Homo sapiens: one gene and its partners. The protein of the gene in region 1 interacts with the protein of each later gene in a pairwise test. Each region holds a gene or a part of one and is shown in the gene's direction. Other genes may lie near its edges. The genes, in order: FNDC3B, ABHD11, MVP and USP54.

The links.
Region 2: the proteins of FNDC3B (region 1) and ABHD11 interact in binary tests that used the Homo sapiens proteins (3 or more experiments, as listed by UniProt).
Region 3: the proteins of FNDC3B (region 1) and MVP interact in binary tests that used the Homo sapiens proteins (3 or more experiments, as listed by UniProt).
Region 4: the proteins of FNDC3B (region 1) and USP54 interact in binary tests that used the Homo sapiens proteins (3 or more experiments, as listed by UniProt).

What each region holds. Positions count from the first base shown.
Region 1 is NC_000003.12:172,343,570-172,350,592, forward strand, and holds part of FNDC3B (fibronectin type III domain-containing protein 3B), read left to right. Parts: intron 1-516; coding exon 517-689; intron 690-2,757; coding exon 2,758-2,871; intron 2,872-3,642; coding exon 3,643-3,792; intron 3,793-7,023. UniProt on the Homo sapiens protein: May be a positive regulator of adipogenesis.
Region 2 is NC_000007.14:73,735,797-73,743,535, reverse strand, and holds ABHD11 (sn-1-specific diacylglycerol lipase ABHD11), read left to right. Parts: upstream 1-4,733; 5' UTR 4,734-4,738; coding exon of another isoform or gene 4,739-4,765; coding exon 4,766-4,890; intron 4,891-5,072; coding exon 5,073-5,208; intron 5,209-5,393; coding exon of another isoform or gene 5,394-5,800; coding exon 5,801-5,974; intron 5,975-6,144; coding exon 6,145-6,315; exon of another isoform or gene 6,316-6,425; coding exon 6,426-6,607; intron 6,608-6,844; coding exon 6,845-6,977; 3' UTR 6,978-7,442; downstream 7,443-7,739. UniProt on the Homo sapiens protein: Catalyzes the hydrolysis of diacylglycerol in vitro and may function as a key regulator in lipid metabolism, namely by regulating the intracellular levels of diacylglycerol. 1,2-diacyl-sn-glycerols are the preferred substrate over 1,3-diacyl-sn-glycerols.
Region 3 is NC_000016.10:29,830,443-29,837,465, forward strand, and holds part of MVP (major vault protein), read left to right. Parts: intron 1-31; exon of another isoform or gene 32-72; 5' UTR 73-107; coding exon 108-232; intron 233-435; coding exon 436-631; intron 632-3,290; coding exon 3,291-3,414; intron 3,415-3,492; coding exon 3,493-3,624; intron 3,625-5,261; coding exon 5,262-5,356; intron 5,357-6,279; coding exon 6,280-6,516; intron 6,517-7,023. UniProt on the Homo sapiens protein: Required for normal vault structure. Vaults are multi-subunit structures that may act as scaffolds for proteins involved in signal transduction. Vaults may also play a role in nucleo-cytoplasmic transport.
Region 4 is NC_000010.11:73,511,322-73,518,344, reverse strand, and holds part of USP54 (ubiquitin carboxyl-terminal hydrolase 54), read left to right. Parts: intron 1-597; coding exon 598-1,970; intron 1,971-7,023.

The sequences.
Region 1 (7,023 bases):
TTACAGCATTGATTTAAGCTGTATTAGCGTTTCCTGTTGTGTCCAGCAGTTTACAACATGTATAATTACAAGTACAAATGTACAGAACTCTCTAGCAGACTATTTTTTCCTACCACTTATGTCTAAAGTATAATAAATTGTGCCAATTTGGGGTCCTGTATTTTGATTTAGCATGACCTTTGGTTTCCAATTAAAGAGATTTTTCTTCCCTCTTTTTCTTCCATTTACCTAGCATTAGAATATGAAGAAATATATCTAATGTTCCTATAATTTTGGGATTATTTTATCAATGTAATTAAATAAACTTCAGTGGACCCGCTTTGGAGAGTATGGATAACATCATTCAGAAACTTTTATTTTTATATCTCTTTTTTGGTGGGCATGGATTCTTTTGTAAGGGAGATACTGAGGCCGGCCACCTATGTGATATTTTGCTCAACTTGTGTGAAATCTGGTGCACTTTGGTCAACTGGAAGCACAAAGTGTTCTAAGATGAAAAAAATTCTTCATTCCCAGATGTTCCTGCATCGGAAAGTGGCTGTGAGGTCTCAGAGTACAGCGTGGAGATGACGGAGCCCGAAGACGTAGCCTCGGAAGTGTACCATGGCCCAGAGCTGGAGTGCACCGTCGGCAACCTGCTTCCTGGAACCGTGTATCGCTTCCGGGTGAGGGCTCTGAATGATGGAGGGGTGAGTATAAGCCCATACACCATAACCAGAATCAGAATGCATAATCAGAACCCAAAGTGCTAGCACTTCTGTCTCTAGCCTCCTGAAATTTTTGACAGTCTTGATGCAACCTTGACAACCATTAATGCAGTGTCTGTAAATCTTAATTCTGAGTTGATATTGTTGTGATTTCATATAGACCCAGCATTAGAAGTTTTCTGTTTCTTTTGTCCTCATATCATTCTATGAAGACAGCACTCAAGGTTAATAAGGATATCACCCTGTAGATATTTTCGACAGTTTTTGGAAAATTTCCTATTCTATTGACTTTATCAGTTCAGGGAAATTAGGATTAGATAATAGTTCTAATAAAAGTTTTATACTGTCTTGTCTAAATGAACCAGCAACATCTTAGGTCAGTTTTTACAACTAGAGAAGGGTAGTGGCCAGGGACACCAGCTTGTTTTTGTTTTGTTTCACGTGAAAACTACAGGACTCTCTCCTTCTATTGCTCCATTTGGAGTTGTCAAGTTGAGCTATCAAAAATTGAGAATATATATGTCTATGTTATATCCATAAAGGTTGTTGTCCTTTTTTTCTTTGAAATTGCCAAATGATGTGGATTTAGGGGGAGATGAATAATGAGCAGTGGGAGTCCCAGTAACTGTGAGGCTTTTGGGTGGGCTCAGAGATTGATGAAGCATAAAAGGGCAGAAGCGTGTGGGTAAAGCCAGCTAAATGCCCCGTCCAAAGTGCCAGTGGTTTGTGTAGATGGGCTCCATGCAAATAAATAGAATTAATTAATTGATGATTTTTTAAAAAAATAAGACAGCCCAACTTGCAGTGACTTTTTGTTTTAAGTGAAAGCAAGTTTATTAAGAAAGTAAAGGAATAAAAGAAGGGCTATTCCTTAGGCAGAGTGCCCAAAACTGGATTTCTCCTAATTCTCCAATAGAAAAGAATTTCAGACACAACAATGATACTTAAGTGAAAACAAAAAAGTCTGAACATTAACGCCTATGTACCTGAACTTATAATCATGTAAGCGAAAAGAAGATGGATAGTGATGAGCACACTGTTGTGTCTACCCCATTCTCTCATCAACTTTTCAGTTACTATCTGCCACAACAAAGATAAATGTGCAACTGGGCTGGTGTGAGCTGTACTTTTCTCAGCCCTTTCACTGATTTATCCTATAAAGAAACTATCTTCAGCTTGGGTTTATTCCTGTTGTATTAGAAATTAACCATATATATCGCTGTAGTCACCTTCTGAGGTCCATTTCAGAGAGCTTCCCCAACTCCCCAGCATCTTTGCATGTTATGTTGAGAGGTGGTTTTTTGTTTCCCCCCTCCCCGCCGTCTTTTTTCTCTCATTTTGACAAGGACAGTCATATATTTTGTTAGCCTGGCAAGTTTTTACTCTGCTCCAAACCTTTGAAGTATCAAATATGCCACCATTAAAATGGGTGGTTCAGGTGGCTGTGACTCTCTCAAAGTGTGGTAAGTCTCTAGCAATTCCTGGCTCTGAGCAGTGTGGTCACTGATGGTAACATCAGGATTGCCGTGGATACCCTTGAATAGGTGAGGTGATGGGAACACACTGAGAAAACATTACAGAAGCATTTATTTTCAAAATGGAAAATACCGGTAACTAGAAGAAATACCTAGAATTTGATCACCAACAATTCCAAGTATATTTTTATTCATTAAAAATTAAACTGCAGTGGGCATCTGACTTAGTTTTCTTGGATGTCCTCTGAGAAATATGAAAGCAGATTGCCCTGTTTTGTCAAAAATCAGCATATTTTTATTTCATGTCCCAAGAAAGGGAAAATATTTTGTCAACCAACTAATTATTTTACAATTAAAAAAATGACAGACATCTACTACTCAGGGACTGTATATAGGAGAAAAACTTACACACATTGAATTGAAAGTGAAAATCATTGGGTAATATTTGTTAATTAGTTGTGTTGATGATGATGTTAGCCTAGCTTTTATTTGGTTATAAGCTTTTGTATGCACACACATTCACAAACACATACACGCATATATACATACGTGTGTGTGCGTGTGTTTTCTTTCAGTATGGTCCCTATTCTGATGTCTCAGAAATTACCACTGCTGCAGGGCCTCCTGGACAATGCAAAGCACCTTGTATTTCTTGTACACCTGATGGATGTGTCTTAGTGGGTTGGGAGGTAAGTCAGGCATATTCTGCATCAACTTCTGTTTCTTCTACTTTACTCCCAAATACAAATACCAATTATAAGGAAGCTGCAAATCCAAAATGCACATATAGATGATTTTTTTTTTTTTTTTGCTCTGTGTACTATAGTAATCACCCTTGGCACTTGCCACTTGCTTATATTATTTAGGGTTGTGGAAGTTTTACTGTAGTCAAAACTGAGAGGAAATGGTTTCTCATGCCTTTCTTTTTGTAAAAAATTTTATTTTATTTTACTTATTTTATTTTTTTGTGTGACAGAGTTTCAATCTTGTCACCCAGGCTGGAGGGCAGTGGCACAATCTCGGCTCACTGCAACCTCTGCCTCCCTGGTTCAAGTGATTCTCCTGCCTCAGCCTCCTGAGTAGCTGGGATTACAGGTGCCCACCACCATGCCTGGCTAGTTTTTGTACTTTTAGTAGAGATAGGGTTTCACTGTGTTGGCCAGGCTGGTCTCGAACTCCTTATCTTAGGCAATCCACCCACCTCAGCCTCCCAAAGTGCTGGGATTACAGGCATGAGCCGCCGCACCTGGCCCTATTTTATTTTTAAATTTCTAAATCTCAAAAAAAATTTTGTGGGTACATAGTAGGTATATATATTTGTGATCGTGCCTTTCTTTTATATGTATTTGAAATATTCTGGGGCATGTTGCTCTCTTTCCCATTTTAGTTAATTGAATACAAGCACAGTAGGATTCTCTTCTCAGTGGCATTATTAACTACTTCCATTTCTGCCTTTCCAGAGTCCTGATAGTTCTGGTGCTGACATCTCAGAGTACAGGTTGGAATGGGGAGAAGATGAAGAATCCTTAGAACTCATTTATCATGGGACAGACACCCGTTTTGAAATAAGAGACCTGTTGCCTGCTGCACAGTATTGCTGTAGACTACAGGTAGGTTGACATTATTCAGATGTTACTCACAAGGACTGCTGTCCCATGAAAGGCACTTTGGGAAACCCACTCAAAGGCTTGTGGTGGAGGCTGTCAGGAGGGATGATATGGAAAAAAAGAGTCCATTTAAATAAAAATATATTTGGTTGTTTTGGTGTTTTGCAGTTAATTTCCACTTCTCTAGGAAATTCTGAAACTTAAGAACAAAATAAGATTCTTCTCCATTCTGCTTCTCACCACCCTTGTATCTTGTCTGTTCATCAGTTTGCTGAATAAATGACCCAAGTCCAAGGGAAAGATGACACAGCTCCTTAGGGAAGGAGCCTTCTGTCTCATTCCCCTGAGATGTACATTTCAGTGGGAAAGACTCTTAGAACTGGTAAAAGACAGAAAATTATTTTACGAGCTGTTAAATGGAGCCAAAAATAATCTGGACTAGTCTGCATTAGATTACAGGACCCCACCTCCCACCTCCCAGTGACGGTTATCAAGGCTGGTTATCTATAAGCTTCCACTTGGGAGTCCAGATAGAATAACATCAAGAAAAATTGGTTCATAGCCTAACCCCTCAGAGTGACAATAACCATGGGTTTACTTTTATTTTACTCTCTTGGCTATATTATTATTTTTTCTGTGTAAAGCCTTAGTCTCTTGAGAAAATAGAGTTCTTTGTCCTCCTCTTTCCATTTGTTCAGTAACATTTCTTGAGCATTATAGTACTTTGTACCAGGATCAAAGGAAGATCAGGAAGAGAGATACAAAGATTAATCAGATGTGGTTGTTGACCTTGAAGAGCTCTGTCTTCATACACATTTAGATTTGAATAGATAAAGAAGCAAAGATGCCAAAGTCAAGTTCCCACCTGATTTAAGTCATGGATCAAATTCGTTATTATAAGTACACCCAATGTCTCTGGTCTCTTTGGAGAAAATATTCGCTTCATAACTTAATTTTTCAGATCAACTGAAGCATTTCTGTTAAATTCAGAAGTCTGCTGTATTTGAAACATTTCTGATTAAACTCTTTTGTTATACACCTTTCTTGCTTCTCGAATGAAGCACCTGGGACATAATTAACCTTTTGACAATGAGTCAGTGTCACAGCAAATTGTCTGATATTTATAATAGTGATGCTGAGTCACTGGGGAAAGGTTAAATTATGTGCCACACTCTTGTTTTTCTACCAAGGCAGGATATAAATAAAGAGCTGTCTGCCACCCCAGTAAAGAGCTTCACTCCATTATGGTTTTTGAGTTTTGGTGTTTCTTTAAAATGTTATTATATCTCCTTCTCTTTCAGAGTCTATGTTGTCTTAGCATTGACTTCCCAAAGCTGCATTATAAAAGATACATTAATAAGAATAGTACCTGCATAATCTTGCCTCGTTGTATTAACAGGAGTAGAAATATATTTTCAAAGGTCTGTGCTTATTTATAATAAAATGAGTCAGATCTTATGAAGGGAGTACTACTTTTAAGATTACCATTGCCACACTAAAGGACTATTGCCAGGAAGGGGGTCTGTTCAAACTATACCAATTTATTGTTATTTGTGGACCAAATATGAATTATTTTCATTCAACATGATTACAAAGTCAAGTTAAACCCCAATATTTTTTGAATATATGGCACTTAAGAATTTAAATATTGGCCGGGCATGGGGGCTCACACTTGTAATCCCAGCACTGTAGGAGGCTGAGGCCGGCTGATCTCTTGAGCCAGGAGATAGAGACTAGCCTGGACAACATAACAAAACCCCTCCTCTACAAAAAAAAAAAATACAAAAATTAGCCAGGCATCTGTAGTCCCAGCTGCTCAGGAGCCTGAGGCAGGAGGATCACTTGAGCCAGGTCAAGGCTGTAGTGACCTGTGACTGCACCACTGTAGGCCAGCGTGGGCGACAGAGTGAGAGCCTGTCTCAAAAAAATAAAAATTTATTATAATACCTGTACTGTGTTTTATAGAAATGTGGTGGAACATTTCTTGTTTTGCTCAGGAATTTTTGAATTTTTGTATTTTCAGGACTGTTTTAATTAAGTACCAACGTAATTCCATTCATAGGGCATGTTGTATATTATAGGCATACTATTATTTACAAAAAGTTGATTTTGAATTAAATTTCATTTGAAAACTGTTAATAAAAAGTGGTGTAAATCAAGAAATGTTTTCCATAGAGCCAAGCTAGTTAAAAAGAAAGTAGGATCCTGCAGTAGAAAAAGAACATTGGAAGAATTGGTAAGATTCTGATTAGGTCTGTATGTTAATAGTATAGTATCAGTGATAATGTTTTTCTTTTCTTTTTTTTCTTTTTTTTGAGATGGAGTCACGCTCTGTCACCCAGGCTGGAGTGCAGTGGCGCGATCTTGGCTCACTGCAACCTCCGCTTCACAGGTTCAAGCGATTCTCCTGTCTCAGCCTCCCGAGTAGCCGGGATTACAGGCGCCTGCCACCACGCCTGACTAATTTTTGTATTTTTAGTAGAGATGGGGTTTCACCAGGTTGGCCAGGCTGGTCTCGAACTCCCGACCTCAGATGATCCACCCGCCTCAGCCTCGCAAAGTGCTGGGATTCCAGGTGTGAGCCACCGTGCCCGGCCACCAGTGATAATTTCCTGGTTTTGATCATTATTCTATAGTTCTGTAACATGTTTCTCTTCGGAAAAGCAGAGTAGGAGATAGACAGAAATTTCTCTGTACTATTTTTGCAACTTTTCTGTAAGTATAAAAGTAGTACACAATAAAAAGGTGTTTGAAAAAATAGAGAAAATACTATTTTGTTCATAATTTTCCCAGTGGGAAGGAAGAAAGTGTAGCTCCTACTGTTGGCCTGATACTCTGCCAGCATTTTACATATTAACCGATTTAATCTTTACTGTAATTCTATGAATTAGGCATTACTGTCCCCATTTTACAGCTGAGGAAACAAGCTCAGAGAAATTAACTAACCTAAGATCACACAGTTGTTAAATGATGGAATCAAGGTTTGAACTAAGCTTCAACTCTTAAAAGCCATGTTCTTGTCCTTCTGTGATATGGTGATACAAAGCCCTAGTTGATAGAAACATTGGGCTCCATGATATCCTATTTTTCTGCCCCTGTGATACATTTATATCAGTACCAAAATCTCGAAATACATACTTATAAAATAATTTGTCATGTTAAAATTTTTCCAGAAAGAGAGTTGAGGTATTGAGGTATTGTAATGAAACAGAAGTGGGTATGACAAAATGTTGC
Region 2 (7,739 bases), on another chromosome or scaffold:
ATCTGGGCTTGTTGAAGCAAGGCAGGAAGGAGCCAGTGTTCTCAAAGTGTTGGGTGAGTAGTAGGGGAGGCGCAGCCGGCAGCAGACCTGCAGGGATTACCATTCCCACATGGGAAAGGTTGCTGTGTGAGGATTAAACACAATAACGTATATGAAAATCCCGGCTGCTTAATACATCAACTCAGGTTCAAAATCTGGGAGGAGAGAAGCTGGGCTGATGTGGGGGTTGAGATGGGAGGAGGTTTCGAGCGGAGTCACATAGGGGCCCCCCAGGGACAGCCCCACGGGAAAGCTCCAGGGGTCTTTCGGGAAGCCCCGACTGGTGCCAGCACAGCTGACACTCCTGCCCCACCCGGCTGGCCAGCAGGAATTTGCCCCATGACCGCCCCTGGCAAGCTGCTGTCACCATGGCGACCGGCCACAAAACAAGCAGCCTGATTGTCCCTGCTCAGCGGGGCAGGTGAAACCCTGGCCACGTGACCGATACTGGGCCAGGTGCAGTTAAGGGACACCCGCCACCTCCCCTCCTTAACCCATTCAATGCCACCGCGCCACCTAGGCGCAGTGTCCCGGCCGCCTCAGGCCGCACCCCTTCGGCCCTTGGTCCCCACGGCCTGAAGGGTGGTGATGAAATACACGGAGCACTGCGTTAGGAGTCAGTGAAGGAAACAATCCGGGCTGTGCACTGGCTGAGTGACCTGGAGCTGGGTTACTTCGCCGTCCAAGCCTCTCTTTCCTCATCAGCAGAATAAGGACGGCACCCTCCCACTTCACAGGAAGCCTGGGAACACGGATGGGGCAGTGTACACTCGACCTCCAAAGAGCGATAGTCCATTTCACCTCCCACCTTCACCTCCACATGTCAGGGGCTCCGGAAGTCCTCCCCTCTGGCCTCCCCTAGAAGGAGGCCTTCGCCAACCAACAGCACGCTTCCTGGCCTGTTCCTAACAAGCTGAGAGGGCTGGGCAGCCCCCAGGATGACACCACCCCCAGATCCATTCCCAGGTAGCAACGACCCCTCCCCTGCCCCCACCACTTTCTCTGGAATGTTCAAGTGGAAACATCAAACCAACTGGTTTTTCTGCTTGCCTTCATCAGCCACCTGATCAGGGCTGGGGCCCAGGACTCTGAGTAAATATCTCAAGGCTGCTTCTGCCCCTAGATGTGGGGATCTTGGGCCAGGCTGAGATTACCTGGTGGAGGGTGGGGTGTATGGCAGGGATCAATTTGAAAGCACCTTTGAGGCCAGGCACAGTGGCTCATGCCTGTAATCCCAGCACTTTGGGAGGTCGAGGCAGGAGGATCACCTGAGGTCAGGAGTTTGAGATCAGCCTGCCCAACACGGTGAAACTCAGTCTCTACTAAAAATACAAAAATTAGCCGGGCATGGTGGCGCATACATGTAATCCCAGCTACTTGGGAGTCTGCAAAAGAGAATCGCTTGAACCCGGGAGGTAGAGGTTGCAGTGAGCTGAGATTGTCCCACTATACTCCAGCATAGGCAACAGAGAGACTCTCTCAAAACAAACAAACAAAAAAAAGCACCTTTGAAATACTATTGTTCTGAATCTTCAACCCCCACGCCCTTCACCCACCAACTCTAGAAAAACACCCACCAACTCTAGAAAAACACCCACCAACTCTAGAAAAACACTCTCCAAGGACCCCTCCCAGGCCTGGGACCAGCCCCCATACAGGGCTCAGATGTCCTCATCACTCCCCTAATTACTATGCGGGAAACATGATCACACCACCTGGTGTGCTTAGAGTCCTCGGTGACCTCAGCCCTCCTCAGATTGGAACCAAACACCTCAGGGTCCCATTAAGCAGGAGATGGAGCTTTACAGAGTTAGGACACATCCTCAGCTTGGCCAGCATGGTGAAATCCTGTCTCTGCCAAAAACAGAAAAAAATCAGCCAGGTGTGGTGATGCGCGCCTGTAGTCCCAGCTACTCGGGAGACTGAGGCATGAGAACTGCTTGAACCCGGGAGGCAGAGGTTGCAGTGAGCCAGGTTCCAGCCTCCATGACAGAGCCAGACCCTGTCTCAAAAAAAAAAAAAAATTAATGGCCAGGCGCAGTGGCTCACACCTGTAATCCCAGCATTTTGGGAGGCCGAGGCGGGCAGATCACCTGAGGTCGGGAGTTTGAACCAGCCTGACCAACGTGGAGAAACCCCGTCTCTACTAAAAATACAAAATTAGCCGGCGTAGTGGCGCATGCCTGTAATCCCAGCTACTCGGGAGGCTGAGGCAGGAGAGTCGCTTGAACCCAGTAGGTAGAGGTTGCGGTGAGCCAAGATCGCACCATTGCACTCCAGCCTGGGCAACAAGAGCAAAACTCCGTCTCAAAATATAATAGTAATAATTAATTAATTAATTATTTTTTTAAAAAAAAAGTTAGGACTCATCCTGTAGGTCCTGGACCGCCCTAAGGAGGTGGGGGAGGGGTCAGTGTAAGACTAGCTGGCCCAGGTGTCATATCCGGGAGGGCCACTAACCCAGCCACCCGCAGGACTTCCACATAAGCATTTACCAGTGCCCTGAAGCTCTTGATGACTATTACCACTTTGCACCAGATGAACAAGACATAGCTCCCGCTGTGGACACACAGGGAGGGCTGCCTCTATAATACTACACAGTAGCCTCTGAGAAATGCTTCCAGAACATTCCATGAAAGAGATTAGTTTTAACTCAGAAAGTCTGCGAAGGCTTGAGGAGGAGGCAGCAGTTATACAATGCCTTAAAAGGCCTATAGCTGAGGCCAGGCATGGTGGAGCACACCTGTAATTCCAGCTACTCAGGGGGCTGAGGCAGGAGGATCAGTTGAGTCTGGGAGTTCCAGACCAGCCTGAAACTGTCCCCTTGCTATGCCTAGAACATAGTAAGACTCTATCTCTACAAAACAGAAAAAAATTAGCCAGACATGGTGGTGCACATCTGTGGTCCCAGCTACTCGGGAGGGTGAGGCAGGAAGATTGCCTGGGCCCAGGGGGAAGAGGTTGCAGTGAGCCGTGATTGTGCCACTGCAGTCCAGCCTGGGTGACGCAGTGAAACCCTGTCTCAGAAAAAATAAAATAAAAGCCATATACCTGAGACAGGAAGGTCGCTTGAGGCCAGGAGCTGGAGACCAGCTTGGGCAAGGTAGCAAGACCCCTTCTCTAAAAAAAATTTTGTTGGGCCAGGTGTGGTGGCTCATGCCTGTAATCTCAGCACTTTGAGCCCAGGAGTTCGAGACCAGCCTGGGCAACATAGCAAGCCCCCGCTTCTATTTTTTAAAAAAAAAATTTTTTTTTTGAGATGGAGTCTCGCTCTGTCACTGAGGCTGGAATGCAGTGGCAAGATCTCGGCTCACTGCAACCTCCATCTCCCAAGTTCACACGATTCTCCTGCCTCAGCCTCCCCAGTAGCTGGGATTACAGGGCCGTGCCACCACCCACGGCAATTTTTTTTTTTTTTAAACGGAGTCTGTCTCCGTCCGGTAGGCTGGTGTGCAGTGGCATGATTTCCGCCCATTGCAACCTCCGCCTCCTGAGTTCAAGCGACTCTCCTGCCTTAGCCTCCCGAGTAGCTGGGATTACAGGCACCCGCCACCACGCCCAGCTAATTTTTGTATTTTTAGTAAAGACGGGGTTCCACCATATTGGCCAGGGTGGTCTCCAACTCCTGGCCTCAGGTGATCTGCCCACCTCAGCCTCCCAAAGTGCCGGGATTACAGGCGTGAGCCACCGCACCCGGCCTAAAAAAAAAAATTGTAACCATGATTCAGTAAAAAAAAAAAAAAAAAAAAAAATGTTAAAATTAGTCTGCGCCTGTAGTCCCAGATTCTCGGGAGGCAAAGGCGGGAGGATCGCTTGAGCCCAGGAGGTCGAGGCTGCAGTGAGCTACGGTCGCGTCACTGCACTCCGGCCTGGGCGAGGGTAAGACCCCCACCAAAAAAAAGTATAGGACTCGGGCAACTGGCTATCTGGAAGACAGACAGCACCCCAGCAGGAGGTGGGGTGTGGAGAAGACCTTGAAAGGCAGGGTGCCTGATAGGGGAGTATGAGAATGGGGAGTATGGGCAGAAAAGCAGGTGGGATCAGACTGGGGGAGCCTTCCCCAAACGTAAAAGGGACGAAGGGGCTTGGGGAAGAGCTCTAGAGTGCCCCCGAGCTCCTTCTAGATCGACGACTCCAGGATGGGTGGGTGTCCGTGCTCCGCCCAACCTGCCCGGGCCCCCGGCAGTGGAGCACGGCGCCACCACACTGGCACTCCGCCGCCCAGAGCCACCCTGGCGCCGCTCGCCCCCGCCGGCGGCACAGAAACGATGGCAGCCACCCAGGTCAGTGAGCGATGGCAGGTGCGGGGCGGGAACCGAGCCCTAAGCTGCAACCAGAACCGAGCACGCACAGAGCGGCGCAGACCGAATTCCCAGATTCTACGCACCGCGGCGCTTCGCGAGGGGAGGGGCAAGCACCGCGGGTTGCCCAGCCTAGGGCGAGGCCAGGTGCGGCGCTCAGGGCGACCCGCGCAAAGCCTGCGGGGATTACGTAATGGCGTAAGGGGCGGGGATGGAGGCGGGGCCGGACTGTTCTCGGGGATACGTAAGGAAACGGGACCAAGGGCGGAGAATCCCGCGATGGGGGCGGGGAGAGGGCGGGGCTCAAGTCGGAACTGGGCGGGGCGGCTGAAGACGGAAATGGGCGGGGCTGCGAGCTAGGGCGGGAGAAGGAGCGCGGGGAGGACGTACCTTGTGAGATGCGAGCCGGCCAACAGCTTGCAAGCATGCTCCGCTGGACCCGAGCCTGGAGGCTCCCGCGTGAGGGACTCGGCCCCCACGGCCCTAGCTTCGCGAGGGTGCCTGTCGCACCCAGCAGCAGCAGCGGCGGCCGAGGGGGCGCCGAGCCGAGGTCAGTCAAGGGCACCGGGCGGGAGGCCATCCTCTGTCCTCCTTTTCCTGCCGGGCCCCGACGGCCCCATCTCCTCCCTTTGGGCCTGTCACCTCCCAGGCCTCTCCCCCAAAGCTCTTTCCCCCTACCCCTTTCCCCGTCTCCGCCGGCTCAGACTCTGACCTCGATCCTTCCCCTGCCAGGCCGCTTCCGCTTTCCTACAGGCTTCTGGACGGGGAGGCAGCCCTCCCGGCCGTCGTCTTTTTGCACGGGCTCTTCGGCAGCAAAACTAACTTCAACTCCATCGCCAAGATCTTGGCCCAGCAGACAGGCCGTAGGGTGAGCTTTCGAGTGGGCGGGGCTCCTTTGGGGCTGGGCGGGAGTGGGCGGGGCCTGAGAGGAGGCGGGGCAGGGGGGGTCCCGCTTCTCACGCTCACTTCCAGATCCCTCACTCTGAGTATGGACCCTGAACGGCAACCCCATTTATTCCCTCACGTTGCCATCTTCATTAATTCATGTTGTAGATCTCCATCGGGGCTGGCCCATGCCTAGGCGCCTGCACCCTTTCCATGAAGGGGCCTGCTTGTTCACTAGGGATGACCGGGAGCTCACCACCTCTTATGGCAGCCCATTCTTCTGTGCTCCTACTGTTGGAAATTCCTGGAGTCTCCTTCCTGGCATTCTCCGAGATTGCCACCCAGCCAGGCCAGCCCTTCAGAGACGTGGTCACAACCCTGGGGCCTGCTCTTCTCTGGCAGAGTGGCCCCAGGTTCTTCATCTGGGCCTCCTAGGTCTGGAAACTGGGCCCTTCCCCTCCACAGGGTGTATCCCCAGGCTCTCCACACCTTTGACCTGCTGTCCCTACAAGCCTTTGGCTGTCTACCCCCAGAATGGGGATATCAACGCAGCCCCGTCTCACCCCACTCCCCAGGTGCTGACGGTGGATGCTCGTAACCACGGTGACAGCCCCCACAGCCCAGACATGAGCTACGAGATCATGAGCCAGGACCTGCAGGACCTTCTGCCCCAGCTGGGCCTGGTGCCCTGCGTCGTCGTTGGCCACAGCATGGGAGGAAAGACAGCCATGCTGCTGGCACTACAGAGGGTGAGCCGCCCATGTCTGGGGCCTCCTCCCATTCAGTATATACCCTGAGGGCCCTGCAGGCAACCTGGGACTCACATGATCGTTGGATGACCAAGTTCAGGCTCCAGGAGCCATGCCTGAGACTCCCTATGTCTGCCTAAGACTGGTCCCAGTTCGGTTCTCTCCCACAGCCAGAGCTGGTGGAACGTCTCATTGCTGTAGATATCAGCCCAGTGGAAAGCACAGGTGTCTCCCACTTTGCAACCTATGTGGCAGCCATGAGGGCCATCAACATCGCAGATGAGCTGCCCCGCTCCCGTGCCCGAAAACTGGCGGATGAACAGCTCAGTTCTGTCATCCAGGTGATACACCCAAGGTGCCCCGGATGGTATTGTAGACCAGGACCTGTCAAGGGAAGAGTGGCACCCCCAGACCGCACAAGGAACCTCCCCCAACTGCTGCACCCCCACAGGACATGGCCGTGCGGCAGCACCTGCTCACTAACCTGGTAGAGGTAGACGGGCGCTTCGTGTGGAGGGTGAACTTGGATGCCCTGACCCAGCACCTAGACAAGATCTTGGCTTTCCCACAGAGGCAGGAGTCCTACCTCGGGCCAACACTCTTTCTCCTTGGTGGAAACTCCCAGTTCGTGCAGTAAGCTAGCCTGGGTAGTAGGAGGGGCATGCTTTACTCGCCCAGGCCCCAGCCTGGGGACCCTACCAGGGGAGGCCTTGGGTGTGGAAGGGGGGTGGCTGAGAGGCCAGAAATACCACCGGGCATATGGGCTCACACAGCTCTCTCCATTTCTCCCCGTTCTGCTTCCACGTGTCTCTTTCACTCCTCCTCATCCCACTTTCACCCGTTTTTGATGGCCGTCGCTGCGATGCACAGTCCCAGCCACCACCCTGAGATTATGCGGCTCTTCCCTCGGGCCCAGATGCAGACGGTGCCGAACGCTGGCCACTGGATCCACGCTGACCGCCCACAGGACTTCATAGCTGCCATCCGAGGCTTCCTGGTCTAAGAGTTGCTGGCAAGAAGATGGCCGGGCGTGGTGGCTCATGCCTGTAATTCCAGCACTTTGGGAGGCTAAGGCGGGAGGATGACTTGAGGCCAGGAGTTGGAGACCAGCCTGGCCAACATGGTGAAACCCTGTCTCTACTAAAAATACAAAAATTAGCCTGGCGTGGTGGTGCACACCTGTAATCCCAGCTACTCTGGAGGCTGAGGCAGGAGAATCACTTGAACCCTGGAGGCAGAGGTTGCAATGAGCCGAGATCACACCACTACACTCCAGCCTAGGCAACAGAGCAAGACTCTGTCTCAAAAAAAACAAAACAAAAAGGAGGCACAAAACCCCAGGCTTCAAGTCTCTGCAGCCTGCTCCACATTTGGGCACAGAAGGACTCAGACAGGCACTGTGTGGGCACGAGGTTTTACAGGGGTGGTCAGACCTCAGGCTTTAATGAATAAAGACACTACTCCCAAAGTCCTGGGCTGAGGTCTGTGTCACCACCAACGTCCCCGACCCAGGGAGAATCTGGATCGGGGGGTGCTGGCAGCTCCAGGGTCCACGTGGGCTCCCCGAGTACCCTTGGCCTCTCTCTGCAGCTGATTCTGGACCTGCTGCCACACCAGCTGCTGCACGTCCTCCTGTGGACAGGAGAGCAGGTTCAAGGCTGAGCCTGTGCCCTCTTTCCCCACACCTCCCAGGCCCTGATGGCATTCCCCTACCTCCCAGGCCTCCAGCTCCCGCCTCAGCCTCAGTTTCTCCTCCAGGACCTCC
Region 3 (7,023 bases), on another chromosome or scaffold:
TGTCACCAGATTCATGCCTGCCCCACCCCAGGCTCCCCAGGTTCATCCTGTGTCGTCTCCCCCACCTACCAGTCATCTTCTTGTGAGCCCTGGGCTTAGGAGTCACCATGGCAACTGAAGAGTTCATCATCCGCATCCCCCCATACCACTATATCCATGTGCTGGACCAGAACAGCAACGTGTCCCGTGTGGAGGTCGGGCCAAAGACCTACATCCGGCAGGACAATGAGAGGTGGGTGTGGGGGCTGGGCTGTGGGGGATCCTTGGGGATGTGGGGGCCTGTTTGGCTGGCATGATGGTCCTTATCCTCCTCCCTCTTCCCAAGCAGGAGTGGCCCTCGCTTGGGCGATAGAGAGGTTTCTCTCTCATTTGGTGTCCTCTTTGGTAGTGGAGACCTGGTCCCAGGTCCTCACACCTCTTCTCATCTTCCTGCAGGGTACTGTTTGCCCCCATGCGCATGGTGACCGTCCCCCCACGTCACTACTGCACAGTGGCCAACCCTGTGTCTCGGGATGCCCAGGGCTTGGTGCTGTTTGATGTCACAGGGCAAGTTCGGCTTCGCCACGCTGACCTCGAGATCCGGCTGGCCCAGGACCCCTTCCCCCTGTACCCAGGGGAGGTGCTGGAAAAGGTACCTGGTTTCCTCACTCCCTATGCCCCACCCTACCTGTCCTCCACCTGCCTTGGGCTCTATACTGCTGCCTTCTTCTTCTTTTTTTCTTTTCTTTTTTGAGGCAGAGTTTCACTCTTGTCGCCCAGGCTGGAGTGCAGTGGCATAATCTCGGCTCACTGGAAGCTCCACCTGGGTTCAAGTGATTTTCCTGCCTCAGCTTCCTCAGTAGCTGGGATTACAGGCACCCGCCACCACGCCCGGCTAATTTTTGTATTTTTAGTAGAGACAGGGTTTCACCATGTTGGCCAGTCTGATCTCAAACTCCCGACCCCAGGTGATCCACCTGCCTCGGCCTCCCAAAGTGCTGGGATTACAGGCATGAGCCACTGTTCCCGGCCTGTACCGAGTTCTAAAGGGAAAACAAACCAGGGCAGTGGGAGGGGTGGGGAGAGACACTTGCTGGCTCTCACCAAGGGTGGAATTGACTCACTGTACCTCCACTCACCTCCAGCCACCCCCATCCTCCACACATGCCCCAAACACACCTGCCTCTTTTCTGAGAACTGTTGGCCCATCTCACCTTCCCAGGCTCCAGAGCCTACCAGAAGTGCCCAGCCAGTCTGGCATTAAATGACATGTGCCAAGGTTAAGCAGTTCATTCACCCGGTGCCAGACACTGGTGGGCAGTGCCAAAGCAGCAGTGACAAGCCCAGGCCCCAGGCTGTGCCTGTTCTAGGAGAAGCCATCACAGGCCTGAACCTACAGCCAGGCTCTTGTCCCCGTTGGCCTCAGGCCTGGGCCTGAGCAGGTGGGTGTCCCACCTTCATTCCTTTACCTGTTCTTCCACCTTTACCTTCTGGCCATTTAATGGTTTTGGGTTTTTTGTTTGTTTGTTTGTTTGTTTTTAATAGAGACGGGGTTTCACCGTGTTAGCCAGGATGGTCTTGATCTCCTGACCTCATGATCCGCCCGCCTCGGCCTCCCAAAGTGCTGGGATTACAGGCATGAGCCACCGTGTCCAGCCCCATTTAATGGTTTTCTTACTGACTTTACTAACCAGTGCTGCTTGATCCTGAAAGCATAATAGCAGAACATGGGGAACTTTTAGAGACATTCATGTCCACTTAGGTGCAGACAGTTTGGGGGAAGAAGTGTGTGTGTAGAGAGAAAATGAAGAATGATTAAGACAATAACCCTTAAGGAATCCAAGTGAAAAGTATATAGGGATTCTTGTACCTTTTTTTTTTTTTTTTTTTTTTTGAGATGGAGTCTCACTCTGTTGCCCAGGCTGGAGTACAGTGGCATAATCTCGGCTAACTGGAAGCTCTGCCTCCCAGGTTCACGCAATTCTCCTGCCTCAGCCTCCCGAGTAGCTGGGACTACAGGCGCCCACCACCACACCCGGCTAACTTTTTGTGTTTTTAGTAGAGATGGGGTTTCACCGTGTTAGCCAGGGTGGTCTCGATCTCCTGACGTCATGATCCACCTGCCTTGGCCTCCCAAAGTGCTGGGATTACAGGCGTGAGCCACCGCGCCTGGCCTTTTTTTTTTTTTTTTTTTCTGGATCTCCCCCTGTTGCCTAGACGAGAGTGCAGTGGGGTGATCATAGCTCACTGCAGCCTCAACCTCCTGGGCTCAAACGATCCTTCCACCTCATTCTCCCAAAATGCTGGGATTGCAGGTGTGAGCCACCAAGCCCTGCCTAAGCTTTCATTTTAAATATGTTCAGCCGGGCACAGTGGCTCACGCCTGTAATCCCAGCACTTTGGGAGGCCAAGGTAGGCAGATCACTTGAGGTCAGGAGTTTGAGACCAGGCTGGCCAACATGGCGAAAACCCATCTCTACTAAACATACAACAATTAGCCAGGCGTGGTGGCATGCGCCTGTAATCCCAGCTACTTGGGAGGCTGAGGCATGAGAATTACTTGAACCTGGGAGGCGGAGATTGCAGTGAGCTGAGATTGCGCCACTGCGCTCCAGCCTGGGTGACAGAGCAAGACTCTGTCTCAAAAAAAAAAAAAAAAATTAGCTGGGGGTGGTGACACACCTGTAATCCCAGCCACTCAGGAGGCTGAGACAGAAGGATCACATGAGCCTGGGAGATTGAGACTGTTGTGAGCCATGGTTGTACCACTGCAGTCCAGCCTGGATGACATAGGAAGACCCCATCTCCAAAAATAAAAAAAAGCCAGCTCTTCCTTTGAGCCCCAGTTTCAGTTCAAAGGGCCTTCTCTAACTTCTCCTTCATCTGAACTCCTGAGACAGGGTCTTGCTCTGCTGCCCAGGCTGAAGTGCAGTGGTGCAGTCATAGCTCACTGAAGCCTTAACCTCCTGGGCTCAAGTGATCCTCCCACCTCAGCCTCCCGAGTAGCTGGGACTACAGGTGTGCGCCGCCACCATGCCTGGCTACACTTTTTTTTTTTTTTTTTTTTTTTAGAGATGGGATCTTGCTATGTTGCCCAGGCTGGTTCTTGAATGTCTGAGGTCAAGCAATCCTCCTACCTCAGTCTCCCAAAGTTCTGGGATGACAGGTGTGAGCCACTGTGCCCGGCCTCCACCCCAGTCTTATTTCAGGACATACAGAGATGGATGTTGTGGACCCGCCTCCAGAGCATCAGGCTTGGCCCTGGGGTCACAGCACTGATGGTTCTGTGTCTCCACCTTCTTCCCCACTAGGACATCACACCCCTGCAGGTGGTTCTGCCCAACACTGCCCTCCATCTAAAGGCGCTGCTTGATTTTGAGGATAAAGATGGAGACAAGGTGGTGGCAGGAGATGAGTGGCTTTTCGAGGGACCTGGTAAGTTCTGTCTCCATAGGGCTCCCTGCCTTCCTGTCATAGCCCTGATACCTTCTGACCATCACCTTCCCTCCCCAGGCACGTACATCCCCCGGAAGGAAGTGGAGGTCGTGGAGATCATTCAGGCCACCATCATCAGGCAGAACCAGGCTCTGCGGCTCAGGGCCCGCAAGGAGTGCTGGGACCGGGACGGCAAGGAGAGGGTGACAGGTGGGGTCACCAAGGGGCGATGATGGTGGGTGGGCAGGAGGGGTCCCCACTGCAGGGGAAGCAGGGGAAGGTTGAGGAAAGCCTCCTGTAGCCCCAGAGAGGCGCTTTCCTGGTATCTTTTGAAAGCTGTTGAGGGCCACCCACTGCTCTTCCTTCCCCACCCCCGCTTCATGCTGTTTCCACTTGGGCTGGAAAATGTGACCATGACCATGCGGATGTGGCTTTTCCTTCCCTCACCTTCACCATGAGCTGTGGGCAGTGGCCATGACTTACCTGATTCTGGATCAACAAAGAAGATGTTCAAATACAATTGACAAATGTAGGCCAATAGGTACAGTGGCTCACACCTGTCATCCCAGCACTTTGCCAAGGTGGGTGAATCGTCTGAGCCCAGGAGCTTAAGACCAGCCTGAGCAACACAGTGAGACCCCATCTCTACAGAGAATTTAAAAATTAGCCTGGCCTTGGACACACACCTGTGGTCCCAGCTACTCAGAAGGCTGAAGGGGGAGAATTTCTTGAGCCCAGGATGTGGAGGCTGCAGTGAGCTGTGACTGCACCACTGCACTCCATCCTGGGCCACAGAGGTACTACCCCGAGGTGCTACCATTCCCACTTTTTTTTTTTTTTTGAGACGGAGTCTTGCTTTCTTGCTGTTGCCCAGGTTGGAGTGCAGTGGCGCGATCTCGGCTCACTGCAAGCTCCGCCTCCTGGGTTCACACCATTCTCCTGCCTCAGCCTCCTGAGTAGCTGGGACTACAGGCGCCCACCACCATGCCCAGCTAATTTTTTTTTTTTTTGTATTTTTTTTTTTTTTTTTTTTAGTAGAGACAGGGTTTCACCATGTTAGCCAGGGTGGTCTTGATCTCCTGACCTCGTGATCCACCAGGTTCGGCCTCCCAAAGTGCTGGGATTACAGGCGTGAACCACCGCACCCGGCCATTCCCACTTTCTATATATCAAAACTGGGATGCAGAATGCAGGTTGCTTGCCCTGGGGTGTGGCCAGGCAGGGCGAGGCTGGGACCTGCATCCAGGCACTCTGGCTTCTCCAGTAAACCAAAGGACATCCACAACTCTAACAGAGGCAGTTCTGCTGCCTGTTTTAGCAGAAGGACAAAAGTTGGTCTTTGGAGCTTAGAGAAGGCAGAACAGGCTGTTGGCATAGCAGCAACTTGGGCATCTTAGGAGGCCAAGGTGGGCGGATCACTTGAGGCCAGGAGTTCCAGACTAGCTTGGGCAACATGGTGAAACACCATCTCTACAAAAAATACAAATATTAGCCGGGCGTGGTGGCACGTGCCTGTAATCCCAGCTACTCAGGAGGCTGAGGCATGAGAATCACTTGAATCCAGGAGGCTGAGGTTGCAGTGAGCTGAGATCACAGCCTGGGCAACAGAGGGAGACTCCGTCTCAAAAAAAAAAAAAAAAAAAAAAAAACTTTTAAAATTCAACTGGGGTGGGGGTTTGGCCTCAAAAGAATGAATAAGAGGACCGCAGTCAGGAACTTGAGCCTGGGGTCAGTGCTATCTTTTTGCCTATGAAATCTGTCAATCCCCTGTGTCTAAGCTGTGGGGGAGGGGTAGGTGGGGAGCAGGCTGGGGGGCCCTTGTCCCTTACCCTCCACTCTTGGCCCAGGGGAAGAATGGCTGGTCACCACAGTAGGGGCGTACCTCCCAGCGGTGTTTGAGGAGGTTCTGGATTTGGTGGACGCCGTCATCCTTACGGAAAAGGTTGGTGCTCTGGGGGCTGTGGTTTAAGGGACCTGGGGCTAGGGAACCCTCCGAGTGGCAGAGAATGGTGGTAGAATGGCATGAGAGTAAAAGAGAAGCAATAATTTTAGGGTCACTTAAAAAAATTCAGAGATCAGATTGCCTGAGTATTCTGGATCATCTGAAGGGTTAAATAGTCTTTCTGGGGCTGGGCGCAATGACTCACATCTGTAATCTCAGCAATTTGGAAGGCTGAGGCAGGAGGATCACTTGAGGCCAGGAGTCTGAGACCAGCCTGGGCAACACAGTGAGAACTCATCGCTACAAAAAATTTAAAAATTAGCTGGGTGTAGTGGAGCATGCCTGTAATTCCAGTTACTCCAGAGGCGCTGAGGCAGGAGAATCGCTTGAACCCCAGAGGCAGAGGTTACAGTGAGCCATGATCATGCCACTGTGCTCCAGCCTGGGCAACAGAGCGAAACCCTGTCTCAAAAAAAAAAAAAAAAAACAAAGCCGGTCGGGTGCAGTGGCTCATGCCTGTAATCCTAGCATTTTGGGAGGCTGAGGTGGGAGGATCACCTGAGGTCAGGAGTTCAAGACAAACCTGGCCAACATGGCGAAACCCCATCTCTACTAAAAATACAAAAATTAGCTGGGCATGGTGTCACCCACCTGTAATCCCAGCTGTACTCAGGAGGCTGAGGCAGGAGAATCGCTTGAACCTAGGAGGCGGAAGTTGCAGTGAGCTGAGATCGCACCTTTGCACTCTAGCCTGGGCAACAAGAGAGAGACTCCGATTTAAAAAAAAAAAAAAACAATCCCTGGATTGGTAGAAATTGTCTCTGAGATCTGGGAGCATTGGGAGCATTTGGTGGCCAATGGGGCTCGCAGATCCCCTGAAGTTGGAGGCAGGTCACTCAAATACCCAACATGTTGCTCTGCAGACAGCCCTGCACCTCCGGGCTCGGCGGAACTTCCGGGACTTCAGGGGAGTGTCCCGCCGCACTGGGGAGGAGTGGCTGGTAACAGTGCAGGACACAGAGGCCCACGTGCCAGATGTCCACGAGGAGGTGCTGGGGGTTGTGCCCATCACCACCCTGGGCCCCCACAACTACTGCGTGATTCTCGACCCTGTCGGACCGGATGGCAAGAATCAGCTGGGGCAGAAGCGCGTGGTCAAGGTGAGGTCCCTACACCCCCACAGAGGACTGCCCTGGGAGATGTATGTCCTCTAGTGGCATGAGGCCCTCTGCCTTCTCTCCTCCAGACGCACGTTCTAGGAACACCTTCTGTGCCTTTGCATGCTTAGTTCTTACACACCTGAGACACTGGCCCATTTGATTCCTGGCAGCCTCTGACTTACCCCTCAGACCTGAAGTTAATTCCCCTTCTGGGAAGGCCTCCTGGCTACCCGCTGCCTGAGACTCTGAAACTCTGATACAGTCATGCGCCACTTAATGATGGGGATACATTCTGAGAAATAGTCCTTAGATGATTTTGTCTTTGTGCAAAAGAGTGCACTTATGCAAACCTAGATGGCACCTAGTCTAGATGGCGTAGCCTGCCCCTAGGCTGCCAACCTGTGCAGCATGTGACTGTCCTGAATACTGCAGGCAGCTGAACACAATGGCAAGTACTTGTGTATCTAGCCATAGAAAAGGTAAGGTAAAAATACAATATAAAAGCTT
Region 4 (7,023 bases), on another chromosome or scaffold:
GGGGAAACATCTCAGTGACTAATAGAACAAAATCCAGATTATAAAAACATATTTGAAATGGTTAATTTCTGTGTATTCCCATGAGCCCAAATCACCCTGTATTTTGTAAATGTGGCCTCATAGTTCCTTTGGCCGGGCTGCCTCTCAGGACCCCAGGTAGGACTTGCCTCCCTGTATAGCATCCTGGATTTTTGCTGTTTGGTATGAGTGATTTTCAGGCTTTGCTTACCTTCCATGTCATCTGCATGTGAGACTAGCTGATTTTGTTTCCTAATTTGCAAGTAGAATGTGATTGGAATGCGACTTCACAGGTAGTGAAGAATATTGGCAAGGGCTCCACTTAATGTTACTGTGCAACTTTGGTGAGGGTGTTTAATAAAGAGGATTAACGTTACCTATTTACCTGAGTGTGAGCTGACCATGTGCCTTTTCTTTTGTGATCCTCTGAACTACTGACTCTACTTGTGCTTGTCTTTCTGTTTATTTTTACCATTCCCTGTGTGAATAGCTAGAAATGGGAATGGAATGTTGAGTTCTTTCTGTAAGTGTTCCTGTCAGTCAAGGCAGCTTATGACTAGCTCTCTCCATTTGTTTCAGTGAACAGCCTATCCCGCTCCAAGTATTGTTAAGCCAAGAGGCCCAACTGGAATCCGGCATGGATACAGAGTTTGGGGCCAGTTCTTTCTTCCATTCACCTGCTTCCTGCCATGAGTCACACTCATCACTATCTCCAGAGTCATCTGCCCCACAGCACAGCTCCCCCAGTAGATCTGCCTTGAAGCTTCTGACTTCGGTTGAAGTAGACAACATTGAACCCTCTGCATTCCACAGGCAAGGTTTACCTAAAGCACCAGGGTGGACTGAGAAGAATTCTCATCATAGTTGGGAGCCATTGGATGCCCCAGAGGGTAAGCTGCAAGGCTCTAGGTGTGACAACAGCAGTTGCAGCAAGCTCCCTCCACAAGAAGGAAGAGGCATTGCTCAAGAACAGCTGTTCCAAGAAAAGAAGGATCCTGCTAACCCCTCCCCGGTGATGCCTGGAATAGCCACCTCTGAGAGGGGTGATGAACACAGCCTAGGCTGTAGTCCTTCAAATTCATCAGCTCAGCCCAGCCTTCCCCTGTATAGAACCTGCCACCCCATAATGCCTGTTGCTTCTTCATTTGTGCTTCACTGTCCTGATCCTGTGCAGAAAACTAACCAATGCCTCCAAGGCCAAAGCCTCAAAACTTCATTGACTTTAAAAGTGGACAGAGGCAGTGAGGAGACCTATAGGCCAGAGTTTCCCAGCACAAAGGGGCTTGTCCGTTCTCTGGCTGAGCAGTTCCAGAGGATGCAGGGTGTCTCCATGAGGGATAGTACAGGTTTCAAGGATAGAAGTTTGTCAGGTAGTCTAAGGAAGAACTCTTCCCCTTCTGATTCTAAGCCTCCTTTCTCACAGGGTCAAGAGAAAGGCCACTGGCCATGGGCAAAGCAACAATCCTCTCTGGAGGGTGGGGATAGACCACTTTCCTGGGAAGAGTCCACTGAACATTCTTCTCTTGCCTTAAACTCTGGGCTGCCTAATGGTGAAACTTCTAGCGGAGGACAGCCCAGGTTGGCAGAGCCAGACATATACCAAGAGAAGCTGTCCCAAGTGAGAGATGTTAGGTCTAAGGATCTGGGCAGCAGTACTGACTTGGGGACTTCCTTGCCTTTGGATTCCTGGGTGAATATCACAAGGTTCTGTGATTCTCAGCTTAAGCATGGGGCACCTAGGCCAGGAATGAAGTCCTCCCCTCATGATTCCCATACGTGTGTAACCTATCCAGAGAGAAATCACATCCTTTTGCATCCACATTGGAACCAAGACACAGAGCAGGAGACCTCAGAATTGGAGTCTCTGTATCAGGCCAGTCTTCAGGCTTCTCAAGCTGGCTGTTCTGGATGGGGGCAGCAGGATACCGCCTGGCACCCACTTAGCCAAACAGGTAAGAATGCAACCAGGGGTTGGGGGGAGGGGGGAGGATCATATAAAAGCTGAAAGCAGGGAAAGATCAGAAGGGAGTGTTCTATACAGATACTATCCCCAGCTTAGTAGGAGGTAATAGAACTTTTGACTTTACTCAGAAAGCCTTCAGGACAAGACCTAGACATTTTTCTGGCTAGAGTGGAGGAAGGGGCAGAATTACCACTCATAGGCAACTTCCCTCCTTCTAAAGTAAGAGATTACTAAGTATTTGCCCATGGCTTCTCCAGTATGCTGTGCTAAAGAATGGTTCAGGGCCGGGCACGGTGGCTCACTCCTGTAATCCCAGCACTTTGGGAGGTCGAGGCGGGCAGATCACAAGGTCAGGAGATCGAGACCATCCTGGCCAACATAGTGAAACCCCTTCTCTACTAAAAATACAGAAAATTAGCCGGGCGTGGTGGTACTTGCCTGTAGTCCCAGCTACTCGGGAGGCTGAGGCAGGGAAATCACTTGAATTCGGGAGGCAGAGGTTACAGTGAGCTGAGATCGCACCACTGCACTCCAACCTGGGTAACAGAATGAGACTCCGTTTCAAAAAAAAAAAAAAAAAAAGAATGGTTCATAGGTGTTTGAGAGTGATTCAGCATGACAGCATGAAATGGAGGGAGGCTGAGAGGAAAATATATTCTTCTATGGCTTAGAATCCCAAGATTCAGCCTCCAGGTCTGCTTTGCAGTAGGATGTCCATATGCTCAGTGTGGACATTTCCAGATCATACTGAACCAGCAATATCAAGACCTTCCTGATCCCTTTAGGAAAAGTCAAGTTTGGTGTTCAAGGAATTTTTAATGTACTATATGCCTACAGGGTAGCCACTGACTGAGATAATACAGAGTGAAGAGTAGAGCCTGCACCTGAAGTGCACATCATAGTCAGTTCTGGAAATTGAAGACATGAAGAATGTTTGTAACTTACATTGATGCACTTAACTCCAAAGCCTGAACTATTTTCCTGATTCCAACATTAACTCTCAGTATAAATTTGGACAAGTCACTTAATATCCCAGGGCCAAGGTTTTACCTGTAAAATGAGAGAACTGGCTTTTTTTTTAAAAAAAGATATGTTCTAACTCTAAAATGGCATGTATGATTCTGTGAAATTGAACTTGGAGAACTTTTCCTTAGCTTGGCTGTGACAGTTTCTGTAATGGTGCAGGTTCCTTGCATGCTGACAACCAACATATAATTACAGTTGAGTAAGTGTTTATTGAGTACTTACTGTGTTCTCCAGAGCCTTTGAGGGGAATACCACATAAATATAAGATTTGATTTTTTATTCATTTTTTTTTTTTTCTGAGAAGAGTTGCACTCCTGTTGCCCAGGCTGGAGTGCAATGGCGTGATCTCAGCTCACTGCAACCTCCGCCTCCCGGGTTCAAGTGATTCTCCTGCCTCAGCCTCCCAAGTAGCTGAGATTACAGGCGTCCACCACCACACCTGGCTAACTCTTGTATTTTTAGTAGAGACAGGGTTTCACCACGTTGGCCAGGCTGGTCTTGAACTCCTGACCTCAGGTGATCCCCCCGCCTCAGCCTCCCAAAGTGCTGGGATTAAAGGTGTGAGCCACCGTGCCTGTCCTAAGACTTGATATTAAGATACATTTCTGAGGATCCGTATCCTAATGTAGATTTTACAATAACATTTACTAAGGTGGTCTTTGATAGGACTGGTTGATATGGGAAGAATCTAAAGAATAAGGGAAAGCTGGAGTCTGCCTCAGTGAGCTTTCTATCTAAGGAAGCAAGAATACACAAATAATTTTTTTTTTTTTTTGAGACAGAGTCTCGCTCTGTTGCCCAGGCTGGAGTGCAGTGACGTGATCTCAGCTCACTGCAACCTCTGCCTCCTGGGTTCAGGCCACTTCTCCTGCCTCAGCCTCCCGAGTAGCTGGGATTACAGGTGTGTGCCACCACGCCCAGCTAATTTTTATATTTTTAGTAGAGATGGGGTTCACCATGTTGGCCAGGCTCATCTCGAAGCCCTAACCTCAAGTGATCCACTCGCCTTGGCCTCCCAAAGTGCAGGGATTATACACGTGAGCCACCGTGCCAGGCCACAAGTAATTATTTTAAGAATAATAAGGCCAGGCATGGTGGCTCATGCCTGTAATCCCAGCACTTGGGAGGCGGAGGTGGGCGGATCATGAGGTCAGGAGATTGAGACCATCCTGGCTAACATGATGAAACCCCGTCTCTACTAAAAATACACACAAAAAAATTAGCTGGGCACGGTGGCCCACACCTGTGATCCCAGCATTTTGGGAGGCCGAGGCAGGTGGATCACCCAAGGTCAGGAGTTCAAGACCAGCCTGGCCAACATGGTGAGACCCTGTCTCTATTATAAATACAAAAAATTAGCTGGGCATGGTGGCGGGCACCTGTAATCCCAGCTATTTGGGGGGCTGATGGCAGGAGAATTGCTTGAACCCAGGAGGTGGAGGTTGCAGTGAACTGAGATTGTGCCACTGCATTCTAACCTGGGCGACAGACCAAGACTCTATCTCAAAACCAAAAACAAAAAAAAATTTGTATTACCCAAAATAGCAACATTTTTCATTGCAGGTAGTTTGAAAATACATAAAGTATCAAAAATCACTGATAATCTCACTCTTAATGTTTTCATAAGCTTACCTTTGGTTTTCATTTTTATACACATGTACTATATAGTTTTGTTTTTGCAAAAAGCAGTATCCTTTACACTATATGTATACAGTTTAGTATCATGACTTTCTCATGTTATATCTGTGAGCATTTGCTGTAAAAACTACCTTTAATGGTTATAAAGTGTTTCATATGAATGTACTGTAATTTATTTCTTCAACCATCCTACTATTGTTGAATATTTAGGTTACTTACAATTTTTTTTTTTTTTTTGAGGCAGTCTCGCTCTGTCATCCAGGCTGGAGTACAGTTGCACAACCTTGGCTCACTGCAACCTCCGCCTCCCGGGTTCAAGCAATTCTTCTGCCTCAGCCTCCCGAGTAGCTGGAACCATAGGCGTGTGCCACCAAGCCTGGCTAATTTTTTGTATTTTTAGTAGAGAAGGGGTTTCACCATGTTGGCCAGGCTGGTCTCGAACTCCTGGCCTCAAGTAATCCGCCTGCGTCAGCCTCCCAAAGTGCTGGGACTATAAAGTGAGAAGTGACTATAAGGTGAGCCACCGCTCCTGGCTTACTTGTAATTTTTAATAACATAGTACTGTGTTGAATATCTTTGCACTTAAGTGGTCACGTTTCTCATGAGCTCCTTAGAATAACCTTTTAGAAGACTAATAACTAGTTGAATGTTATAAACTTTTTTTTTTTCATTTTTGAGACAGGGTCTCATGTTGTTGTCTTGGCTGGAGTGCAGTGACATGATCACAGCTCACTGTAGCCTTGACCTTCTTGGCTCAAGAGATCCTCCCACCTCAGCCCCTTGAGTAGTTGGGACTACAGGCATGCACTACCATACCTGACTAATTTGAATGTTATAAACTTAAAAAAAATATTGATACATACTGGCCAGTTAGCTTTGAAGAAGACTATACTTCTGAAAACAGTATGAAAGAGTACTTACTGACCATTAATTTTTTTGTCTAGTAGTGTAAAGAAACAAATTTTTAAAAATCTATCTAGTAGTCAATCTATTCTCAATATATTTATCAAATCAAGCGGAGCATGATGACTCATGCCTGTAACCCCAGCTACTTGGGAGACTGAGGCAGGAAAATCACTTGAGGCCAGGAGCTTCAGGCTGTAGTGTGCTATGAGCACATGCCTGTGAACAGCCACTCTCCTCCAGCCTGGGCAACACAGTGAGACCCTATCTCTTAAAAAAAAAAAGTAAAATCAAACTAGTCTTTATTTTTGTTAGAGTCCTTGGTTTAAAAACTGAGTCCTTAAGAAGTGACATGACAGGCTGGGTGCAGTGGCTCACACCTGTAATACCAGCACTTTGAGAAGCCAAGGTGTGAGGATCACTTGAGCCCAGGAGTTCAAGACCAGCTGGGCAACACAGTAAGATCCCCATCTCTACAAAGACTGAGAAAATTAGCTGGGTGTGGTGGTGCGGGTCAGTAGTCCAGCTACTTGGGAGGCTGAAGCAGGAGGATCAACTGAGACTGGGAGGTTGAGGCTGCGGCGAGCTGTGGTCATGCTACTGCGCTCCAGCCTGAGCAACAGAACAAGACCCTGTCTCAAAAAAAAGAGGAGTGATATGACATAGAATAAAGAAGTGATCAGATAGAATTAATTGGGAAGTAGATGAAGGAAAATGCCAATTAGGATTCACATATGAAAAAATATAATTTGGCCAGGTGCGGTGGCTCACGCCTGTAATCCCAGCACTTTGGGAGGCTGAGTCGGGTGGATCACCTGAGGTCAGGAGTTCGAGACCAGCCTGACCAACGTGGTGAAACCCCATCTCTACTAAAAATACAAAAAAAATTAGCCGGGTATTGTGGCACGTGCCTGTAATCCCAGCTACTCGGGAGGCTGAGGCAGGAGAATTGCTTGAACCCAGGAGATGGAGGTTGCAGTGAGCCGAGATCACGCCACTGCACTCCAGCCTGGGTGACAAGAGTGAAACTGTCTCAAAAAAAAAAAAGAAAAAATATAATTTGAGAGTTCTTTATCTTATTGTAAAACATTTATTAAGCACCAAATTACATTACTTTTTAAAATTTATTTATTTTTTGAGACAGAGTCTCGCTCTGTTGCCCAGGCTGGAGTGCAGTGGCACAACCTCAGCTCACTGCAACCTCCGTCTCCCAGGTTCAAGCGATTCTCGTGCTTCAGCCTCCCAAGTAGCTGGGATTACAGGCATGTGCCACCACACCTGACTAATTTTTGTATATTTTGTAGAGACGGGGTTTCACCATGTTGCCCAGGCTGGTCTCAAACTCTGAGCTCAAGCAATCCACCTGCCTCAGCTTCCCAAAGTGCTGGGATTACAGGTGTGAGCCACCACGCCCGGCCACCAAATTAGTTTTTCAAAAAATGCTAAAAAAAAAAAAATGCTTTATTGATATGTAA